Regions from separate parts of the Homo sapiens genome. Here region 2 is linked to region 1. The links come from fine-mapping of genetic effects on gene expression. Tissue or cell type: whole blood. Region 1 holds a variant in brackets; the other region holds the start of a gene. All regions are shown on one strand. Distances are between the middles of the regions.

Region 1 (5,144 bases):
AAAGTGCTGGGATTACGGGTGTGAGCCACTGCGCCTGGCCCATTCATTTCTTATATTGGTAAACATGACTTCACCTTTACCTTGATTATAAAGTCCCAGTCTACTTTTGAGATTCTTTAGATTTCTGCAGTGTGTAACTCTTTTTTTTTTTTTTTTAAACGGAGTCTCGCTCTGTCACCTAGGCTGGTGTGCAGTGGTGCAATGTAACTCTTAGTGATTCTTAATCTTGGTTGGAATGTGCTATGTTTGGCCTTTTTTTTTTTTTTTTTGGAGACCGAGTCTCACTCTGTTCTCCAGGCCGGAGTGCAGTGGCGAGCTCTCAGCTCACTGCAACCTCCGCCTCTGGGTAAGCGATTCTCCTGCCTCAGCCTCCTGAGTAGCTGGGATTACAGATGTGCACCACCACGCCTGCCTAATTTTTTTGTATTTTTAGTAGAGACTGGGTTTCACCATGTTGGCCAGGCTGATCTCGAACTCCTGAACTCAGGTAATCTGCTTACCTCGGACTCCCAAACAGCTGGGAGTACAGGTGTGATCAACTGTGCCTGGCCTATGTTTGGCATTTAACTGGTGGGGGAGGGATGCATATCTTTGTACATTTTCAGCCTTTTTTGTCCTTCATCTGTTAAAGAGGTCATAGAGTAAGACATTTCCTTTTAATCTTGGCAATTTCCCAGGCCAAATGATAGGTTTCTAGGGTACTTCCAGGACTTAACTGACAAAAGGGGAAGATAAGCGATGCAATTGAGAGCTGAAGTAGGGTCTCTCTTTTTTTTTTTTTTTTTTTGGAGTCTTGTTCTGTCGCCCAGGTGGGAATGCAGCGGCGTGATCTCGGCTCACTACAACCTCCGGCTTCACTACAACCTCCGGCTCACTACAACCTCTGTCTCCCGGGTTCAAATGATTCTCCTGCCTCAGCCTCCTGAGTAGCTGGGACTACAGGCACCACACCACCAGGCCTGGCTAAGTTTTTGTGTATTTTTAGTAGAGGCAGGGTTTCACCATGTTGGTCAGGCTGGTCTCGAACTCCTGACCTCATGATCCGCCCGCCTTGGCCTCCCAAAGTGCTGGGAGTATAGGCGAGAGCAACTGTGCCCGGCGAAGCAGCATCTCTTTTTAAGGTTGTAAGGTAGCTTGGGTTAGAAATAAAGGCAGAGAGCCACTCCATACCTGTAGTTCTAGCTACTGGGGAGGCTAAGACCAGAGGATCTCTTGAGCCCAGGAGTTCAAGGCTGCAGTGAGCTGTAATCACACACTGCACTACAACGTGGGCAACATAGAGTGAGACCTAATTAAAAAATAAATAAATAAATAAATAAATAAATGCAAGGAGAAAGTCATGAACTTGGTGCATTTAGGTGTACAATTAGTTGGCATAAACAATTTTTTTTTTTTGAGATGGAGTTTCTCTCTTGTTGCCCAGGCTGGAGTGCAGTGGCACAGTCTCGGCTCACTGCAACCTCCGCCTCCTGGGTTCAAGTGATTCTCTTGCCTCAGCCTCCGGAGTAGCTGGGATTACAGGTGCCCGCCACCACGCCCAGCTAATTTTTGTATTTTTAATAGATGGGGTTTCGCCATATTGGCCAGGCTGATCTTGAACTCCTGACCTCAAGTGATCCGTCCGCCTCAGCCTCCCAAAGTGCTGGGATTACAGGCGTGAGCCACTATGCCAGCCAAGAATTTTTAAAAAAGGAGTTTCATTCAGCCCACCTCATTCCTCTGCAGGGCACCTGTGTGCAGGGCAAAACTGCTCAACCCTACTCAGCAGCCCTGTGAAAGCTGCTGAAAGGATGAGCAGATTGAGGCCTGAACTGTATCTTGGATTTAGCAGCCTGGAGGTCATAATGGATTTTGCCAAGAGTGATGGGGCAGAATTTGGACCAGTGTGTGTTAAGGAGCTAGAAGAAGTGAAGAAATGGGAGAGGGGAGTCTAGACAACTTTAGTTTGGCTGCAGCAAGTAAAGGCAGATTGTTCGATGGAGGGACATGTGGGATTGATGGAGTTTTTCCTTTTTATATGTTTTTGCATTTTTCAATGGGATACATTAGAAAGTGTTGCATGTTTATGGGGGGGATTTAGTTCAGTGGGAAAAGTATTTGAAAAGTTACAGTAAGGTAGAAGTAGATGGAATCCTCAGTAAG[G/T]TCTAGAATCGGGTGCAGGTATTTTATGGTATCTTCCCCACCCCTCCCCGAGATGGAGTTTCGCTCTTATTATTGCCCAGGCTCTGGAGTGCAGTGGTGCAGTCTTGGCTCGCTGCAACCTCCACCTCCTGGGTTCAAGCGATTCTCCTGCCTCAGTCTCCCGTGGAGCTGAGATTACAGGTGCGCACCACCACACCCAGCTAATTTTTGTATTTTTAGTAGAGATGAGGTTTCACCATTTTGGCCAGGCTGGTGTCCAACTCCTGACATCAAGTGATCCACCCGCCTTGGCCTCCCAAAGTGCAGGGATTACAGGCGTGAGCCACCGTGCCCAGCTGGTACCTTTTTTTTTGTTGGTGAAGTAGAATGTGTGTATGGGGAGGGGAGGTGGATAGGATATTTTGGAATTTGAAGATAATGGGAATGTCTGGATAGTGCATGTATAGAATGGGAAGTAAACACTGGAGGACCTGGGAGTGTGGTGCTTATTGATGGATCGTTGGGTTTATCCAGGATTGGGGTTTTGCCAGATGGCTGTGATGAAAATCTTAAGAGTTAAGGGTATAGGCAAGAGTGTTGTTGAAATGACACACAATGAAATCTAAGCTGGTTAAAGAAGTGAAGAAGGGGCCGGGCACGTTGGCTCACGCCTGTAATTCCAGCACTTTGGGAGGCCGAGGCGGGTGGGATCCCTTGAGGTCAGGAGTTCGAGACCAGCCTGGCCAACATGGTGAAACCCCGTCTCTACTAAAAATACAAAAATTAGCCGGGTGTGGTAGCAGGGGCCTGTAATCTCAGCTACTTGGGAGGCTGAGGCAGGAGAATCGCTTGAACCTGGAGGTGGAGGTTGCAGTGAGCCAGTATTGCACCACTATACTCCAGCCTGGGCAACAAAGTCAGAGTCTGTCTCAAAAAAAAAAAAAAAAAAAAAAAAAAGTGAAGAAGGAGGAGAATACTTGGATTGGGATAAAGTAGAAAGAGTCACTGGAATTAAAGTTAACTAAAAAACTCATAAACTTTAGAATGGTACTGAGAAATTGTAAGGTGAACTGAAAAAGGCTCATGGGATTTTAGAGCCAAGAAGTCCTTGAGTGGCAGTTCCTACCTTAGTAGGAATAGCTTCAGTGGTGTGTTGCAGGTGGAACCCAGATTAAAGTGCGTTAAAAAGTAAATGAAGGCAAGGAAGATACATTTTTCAACAGGTTTGTCTGTGAAGAGTCCAGGCTATTAGATTGATAGAGGGAGAAAGGCAGTTAAAGGGTTTTTTTGTTTTTTGTTTTTTTTTTTGAGTCAGAGTCTCACACTGTTGCCTGGTCTGGAGTGCAATGGCGCGACCTCGGCTCACTGCAACCTCCGCCTCCGGGGTTCAAGTAGTTCTCCTGCCTCAGCCTCCCAACTAGCTGGGATTACAGGCGCCCACCACCACACCTGGCTAATTTTTTGTATTTTTAGTAGAGATGGGGTTTCACTATGTTGCCCAGGCTGGTCTCAAACTCCTGACCTCATGATCTGCCTGCCTCACCCTCCCAAAGTGCTGGGATTACAGGCGTGAGCCACCGTGCCCGGCCTTATTTTCTTAATTTTTAAATTTATTTTATTATTATTATTATTTTTGAGATGGAGTCTCTCTGCCGCCCAGGCTGGAGTGCAATGGTGCAGTCTCGGCTCACTGCAACCTCTGCCTCCCGGATTCGAGCGATTCTCCTGCCTCAGCCTCCTGAGTAGCTGGGATTGCAGGCGCCCGCCACCACGCCTGGCTGATATTGGTATTTTTAGTAGAGACGGGGTTTCACTACATTGGCCAGGCTGGTCTTGAACTCCTGACCTCATGATCCACCCACCTTGGCCTCCCAAAGTGCTGGGATTACCAGCGTGAGCCACTGCACCCGGCCTTTAGTTTTTTTTTGAGACAGAGTCTTGCTCTGTCGCCAGGCTGGAGTGTAGTGGCACGATCTCGGCTCACTGCAAGCTCTGCCTCCCGGGTTCAAACGATTCCCCTGCCTCAGCCTCCCAAGTAGGTGGGACTACAGGTGCGTGCCACCACGCGCAGGTAGTTTTATTTTTTCTATTTTAGTAGAGACGGGGTTTCACCATGTTGGCCAGGGTGGTCTCAATCTCCTGACCTTATGATCTGCCTGTCTTCGCCTCCCAAAGTGCTGGGATTACAGGCGTGAGCCACCGTGCCCGGCCATTTTTTGTTTTTGTTTTTGTTTTTTTTAAAGTAAGACTTTTGAGAGTGCTCATATGTTGACGATGTGATAAGCAGTAGTAAAATGGGAGATTTTGCAACATACAAAAGAAACAGGCCGGGTGCAGTGGCTCAAGCCTGTAATCCCAGCACTTTGGGGAGGCCAAGGTGGGCGGATCACGAGGTCAGGAGATCGAGACCATCCTGGCTAACATGGTGAAACCCCGTCTCTACTAAAAATACAAAAAATTAGCCGGGCATGGTGGTGGGCGCCTGTAGTCCCAGCTACTCGGGAGGCTGAGGCAGGAGAATGGCGTGAATCTGGGAGGCGGTGAGTCGAGATCACGCCACTGCACTTCAGCCTGGTCGACAGAGCGAGACTACATCTCAAAAAAAAAAGACAAGACATACCTTGGAAAATGGGGGGAATAGACAGATCCAGATGATTTCTATGGATAGGAGGTTTATTTGTTCCATTATGCGAAGATGATGGGAAGAAAAGCTGTATGTGCAGATGCAGGTGAATTTGTGGATATATTAGAAGGAAGATGACAGGCAGCGTTGGAGTGTTGAAGAGCTCAAACATTAGACAGTACTGGGTCTGAGTTCTGACTCTGCCTTTTACAAGCTGTGCAACCTTAGGCCAGTTATGAAACCTTAGTTATCAAGTTATAACTAATAGGATTGTGTTGAACACGAAATGACATGATAAACATATGTAAACTGCTTGGATCAGTTGCCCACTAGCTCTTGTTAGGAGCTAAAATGTTAGCTCTTGCTGAGGGTGCTGTCAAATGGCTTCTATTTCTCATGG
Region 2 (5,144 bases), 490 kb after region 1:
GGCAGGGAATTGCACTCATTCTCCTCCAGCCCCTTCCCTTACCCAGGTCCAGGCAGCCTCCTTTGTCCCCAACCCCAGGGCTCTTGCTCCAGGCAGTCCTGAGGTTGGACGTAAGGTCGGTGATGCGGCCCTGCCCCCAGACCTTCCCACAGCTTCAGGTTCAGGAAAAGGCACATGAAGTTTGGTATAAACAAGGACACAACTTCACAGAGTTTCTCACTGATTTAAGTTAAATATTCTAGTCTTTAGAGAATGGGTCACATGACTCAGGAATTGCCAACAGCCTGTTTTCACCCAGCGGCTTCCTGGTTTACCCCCTTTAGGAGATGATTAATGGAAATTGAGAATGTGTCTCATAAATTACTTTTTTTTTTTTTAAAGCAGCACAGTTTTAGGAACTTTTCGAGACAGAACAGCTCAGCCAGCCTAGACTTCCACTTGTCCTCCCTCCTCCCACTCCTGCCAATTAACACCAGTCACCAGAGGCAAGAACCGCCTAGATCAGAAGCGACCCCAGGAACCAGGCTTCAGCACCCCTGATCTTCATCAATATTTTCTCAACTTGCCTAATCATAGGACTGAGCTATAATTCTTTAAAAAAAAAAAAAAAACAAAACCCCAACCACACACACACAAACAGAGACAGGGTCTCGCTATGTTGCTCAGGCTGGTCTGGAACTCCTGGCCTCAAGCCATCCTCCCATTCGGGCCTCCCAAAGTACTGGGATTACAGGCCTGAGCCACCGCATCCAGCCCTAGGCTGGAATTCTTAACCCCACTCCTGCTGCTTTTTGCAGGCCTCACTTCTGACTCACTGGGTCTAAGTTTCCGGGAGAGAGCCTCTGGACCCTGTGTTCTAGGCAAACGCCCCTAAGTAACAGCTCCCACTTCAGATGAGCTTAATCTGTGCCAGGTAGTGTTAAGTGCCCTCAATTAACTCATGTTATCCTCACAAGAACCTGCAAGTTAAGAAATTTGCCCAAGAGCACACAGTTATCAAAGGACGGAGCCGGAAGTCCAACCTGGCTATAACTGTAGAGACCACAAACTAGGAGGCAGTGGCTTCTCAGGCAGAAACACAAAGATTCTAAGCCGAGAACAAGAACTAGAGGACCTGGGTGGGGCTGTGTACTGCCCAGATGGTGCTAATGGCAGTTCAAAGGTGAGTGTTTCCTGTAAGTTGGGCCAGCGCCCAGCCTCTGCTCCCCCAGAACCTGGGAGGGCAGCACCCAAGATAACCTGAGCACCCCGTTACCTTGGAGCCCTGAGGCTGTCTCTGGGCCACCCACTCAAGGTGGCCCCCCTACCTGCTCAAGGCTACATACAGAGGGCTGTCCTGCCCAAACAGCCACACCCGAGGGCCGACCCAGTGCTCTGTGTGCCAAGGGAGTTTCTGGCAGAGCCACCTGATACCCCACGTGACAGCTGGCCTCTCCCCCATCACCCAGGGGCTACCCAGGCAGAGAGCTGAGAACACAGGGGCCATCAGCCTCGCTATCACCTCCACCCCCAAGTGCTTGGCTCCCCAAGGGACAGCTCTAAAATCCCCAGAATCTCAGGCTGGTGGGTCCAGCTGAGCATCCTAGTTTTCACTTTCTCCTCCCAAAAAGGAAAGAACCTTGGTCACTAAATTCTACGCCTTCTGGAAATCACTCTGCTAATGACTTCCTGAATGATCGACTGAGACCAACAGCTGGCCCAGCCCTGCATGGAGGAGTAAGAAACCCTCATCTGTCAGAGTTAAGGGGCCTGAATGGGTACAGGTCACATTCTTGGAGCTCAAGGTGACAGGCCAGAGCCCAGGTCCCCAGGACAGTGCAGGTGAGTAGAGCAAGCACCGATCTAGGGCTAAGATGGGGTCTGAATGACCCTGTAAGGTTCCCCACCTGATTTCCCAGGTGGGACCCTGAAGTCAGAGAGAGGCCTGAGAGTTGCAGGGGGGTGGGGGACCGGTGTTGGTGTTAATCTGCCTTTACTTCAAAACCCAGAAGACTCCCAACTATTGGAAAGTGAAACCTCCAAAAGCAAAGCCACCACCCATCCTCCTTCCCCACTCTGATTCAGACATGTTTTCCCTGCCCCAGCAGAAGCAAGGCCCTTCAAAGCAAGACAGGACTAAAGAGAGCCTCAAGGGATACAAAGATCTGCCCCTGATTTGGGGTTTGGGGGGCTAGTACAATGTACTCACATCTAGAAGTGCAGGTAGCTGCAACAAACGCCTCAGATGGGGAACTCTCACCCTGCCTTGGGGATCACTTCCCGGCAGGGCAAGGCAGGCCAAGCCCAGGGGTGGGGCTTGGGAGTTAAAGGGCCCGTGTGCAGCTGGTTCTCATTTTATCCTCCGGGCTGCTTCTGCTGCAGCTGAAGGCACACTGCTCCCTGAGTGCTCATGGGTTTCTACCTTGGAGCCAGCTGGCTGCACTGGAGTGGGACTGGGAGGAGTTGGAGGGCCCGAGATGGGACAGGTGCTAACTGAGGGCACCTCTACCCATCTGGCTTTCATTTTCCAATCTGGGTGAGTACAATTCTGCCTCTCCCTTCAAGTGGGGCCTAACTGTTGAGCTACAGCTACAGCCCCTCCTTTTAAGAGATGATAGCTCTGCATCTTTTATTTCAGACTCAGAAAATTCAGTCCAGGTCTCTGAATAGGTGTTCAATAGAAAACACACACTCACACACTCTCTCTATATAGATGTTCAATAGAAAACACACACACTCTCTCTATAGGTGTTCAATAGAAAACACACACACACACTCTACAGGTGTTCAATAGAAAAAACACACACACACACTCACACTCTCTCTTCCTCTTTCCCGCAACGTGCTGTTTGGGAGCTTGAGGTTTCTCTCTTCTTCCCAAGTTTCTCAATGTCTGGGCTGGGGAAGGAGGGCCCAGGCTCCAGCAGGTACGGACACTGCACCCTAGAGGCAGGAGCAGTGGGAATCAGTATTTCCGCTGCCGAGGGAAGAGACTACTCCCGGAGGATCGGAGTGGGGGGCTGGCGGGGCTGGGGTCCTCCGAGTCCAGGCTGAAGAGGTCCCTCCCGGTACGAAGGATCTGCTCCTCCAGCTTCTTGTGTCTCTTCATGTCCGACAGCACCTTGTCCAGGCGGGCCTCCCGTTTCTGGCTCCGGGCTGAGCTTCCTGGAGAAGAGGAAGGTAAGATACATGGAAGGGATGGAGGTGGTGTACACCATACCTGCCTGGACCTCACTCATCACTTGGGGAGCTGGTTAAACATGCAGGTCCCCAGGCCTCTGTCTTGGAGGACCTGAGGTTCAGGGTTGGACCTCAGAGAGGGTGAGAAGCAAAGATCTTGATTGACAGGAAGGCACAGGTAATGTGAAGAACAGGGAGGAACATACTGGGCAGGGGAATGGCAAGGGTAGAGGCCCCAGGACAAGAACAGAGTTCTGTTCAAAGAAGAGTGCAGGCCGGGCATGGTGGTTCACGCTTGTAATGCCAGCACTTTGGGAGGCTGAGGTGGGCAACTCACGAGGTCAGGAGTTTGAGACCAGCCTGGCCAACACAAAAAATTAGCTGGGCGTGGTGGTGGGCGCCTGTAATCCCAGCTACTTGGGAGGCTGAGGCAGAAGAATCGCTTGAACCCGGGAGGTGGAGGTTGCAATGAGCCAAGATCGCACTACTGCACTCCAGCCTCGGTGACACAGCTACACTCCGTCTCCCCTACTCGCCAAAAACAAAAACAAAAAAAAGAGTGCAGAGAACTGGAGGTGGCGGGAAAAGCGCTTGGATTCTCCTTTGACATGCTCTTCCCTGGCAAGATGGAATCCCTTGGAAAATTTTAAGTGGAAAAGTGACACGATTTATGGCTGAGTGCAGCAGCTCACGCCTGTAATTCCAGCACTTTGGGAAGCTGAGGCAGGCACTTTGGGAAGCTTTAGGTCAGGAGTTCAAGACCAGCCTCGCCAACATGGCGAAACCCCCTCTCTACTAGAAAATACAAAAATTAGCTAGGCGTGGTGACGTGTCCTTGTAATCCCAGCTACTCAGGAGACTGAGGTAGGAGAATCGCTTCAACCCAGGAGGTGGAGATTGCAGTGAGCCAAGATCATGCCACTGCACTCCAGCCTGAGCAAGAGAAAGACTTCGTCTCAAAGAAAAAAAAAGTGATATGATTTATGTTTTAAAAGGTTCATCTGAATTGCAGAAGCTGGAAGCAGAGAGCCCAGTTAGGAGCTACTACAACTATCCAGGCAAGAAAGACAGTGGCTTGGATGGGGATGTGGTATTGAAAGTGGAGACTAGCAGAGGTACTTGGAAATGTACATCTTATAGCTACCAAGACTTGCTGCTGGTGTGAATGTTCAGGTAAAAGAGAGAGAAATCAAGAATGGCTCTAGGCTGGGTGCAGTGACTCATGCCTGTAATCTCAGCACTTTGAGAACCGAGGCGGATGGATCACTTGAGCTCAAGAGTTCGAGACCAACCAGTCTGGGCAACACAGCAAGACTCTGTCTCTCCACCCCTCAAAAAAAAGAAAAAAGGAAAGGCATGACTCTGAGGGTAAATTCTAGGAAGGCATGTGGGGTGGGAAATGGGGCCAGCGGTGTGATTAAAGAATGTACATGGTAGTAGAGGGATGCAGATCTAGATAATATTGAAAGGCCAGGACTTGGACTTCTGGGAATGGGAAACATGATAGAATTATCTGTAATTTTCCAGAATCAATGACTAGTTGTTTTTTTAAAAAAAGAATTATCTGTAATTGTGTTTTTTGAGACGGAGTCTCACTCTCTCGCCCAGGCTGGAGTGCAGTGGTGTGATCTCAGGTCACTGCAACCTCCACCTCCCAGGCTCAAGCGATTCTCCTGCCTCAGCCTCCTGAGTAGCTGGGACTACAGGTGCCCGCCACTATGCCCGGCTAATTTTTTGTATTATAATTGTCTCTTAAAGGAAGACAAGGGGCCAGGCGCATTGGCTCATGCCTGCAATCCTAGCACTTTGGGAGGCTGAGGTGGGCGGATCACAAGGTCAGGAATTCAAGACCAGCCTGGCCAACATGGTGAAAGCCTGTCTCTACTAAAAATACAAAAATTGGCCCAGAGTGGTGGCATGCGTCTGTAATCCCAGCTACTTGGGAGGCTGAGGCAGGAGAATTGCTTGAACCCAGGAGGCGGAGG

Evidence for each region. PIP is the estimated chance that this variant, and not a neighbour inherited with it, causes the effect.
Region 2: MVP starts here. The variant in region 1 is fine-mapped to the expression of MVP in whole blood (TOPMed, PIP above 0.99). The same link has a PIP of 0.9 or more in tibial artery.

The regions. Positions count from the first base shown.
Region 1 is chr16:30,312,534-30,317,677 of GRCh38, reverse strand. It overlaps the pseudogene SMG1P5. Among named protein-coding and RNA genes, the nearest start is that of CD2BP2, 40 kb to the left of the region's middle. The variant G/T (reference allele first, on the strand shown) is at 2,143.
Region 2 is chr16:29,817,555-29,822,698 of GRCh38, reverse strand. MVP (major vault protein) reads right to left here and starts at 2,237. Exons shown (of 15, transcript NM_005115.5): 1 at 2,189-2,237. It overlaps PAGR1 (PAXIP1 associated glutamate rich protein 1), which reads right to left. Exons shown (of 3, transcript NM_024516.4): 3 at 210-3,144. The coding sequence ends at 2,945. It overlaps MVP-DT (MVP divergent transcript), which reads left to right and starts at 2,332. Exons shown (of 4, transcript NR_186424.1): 1 at 2,332-2,515; 2 at 3,098-3,159. RefSeq lists enhancers at 1,514-1,803, 1,266-1,832, 2,524-2,593.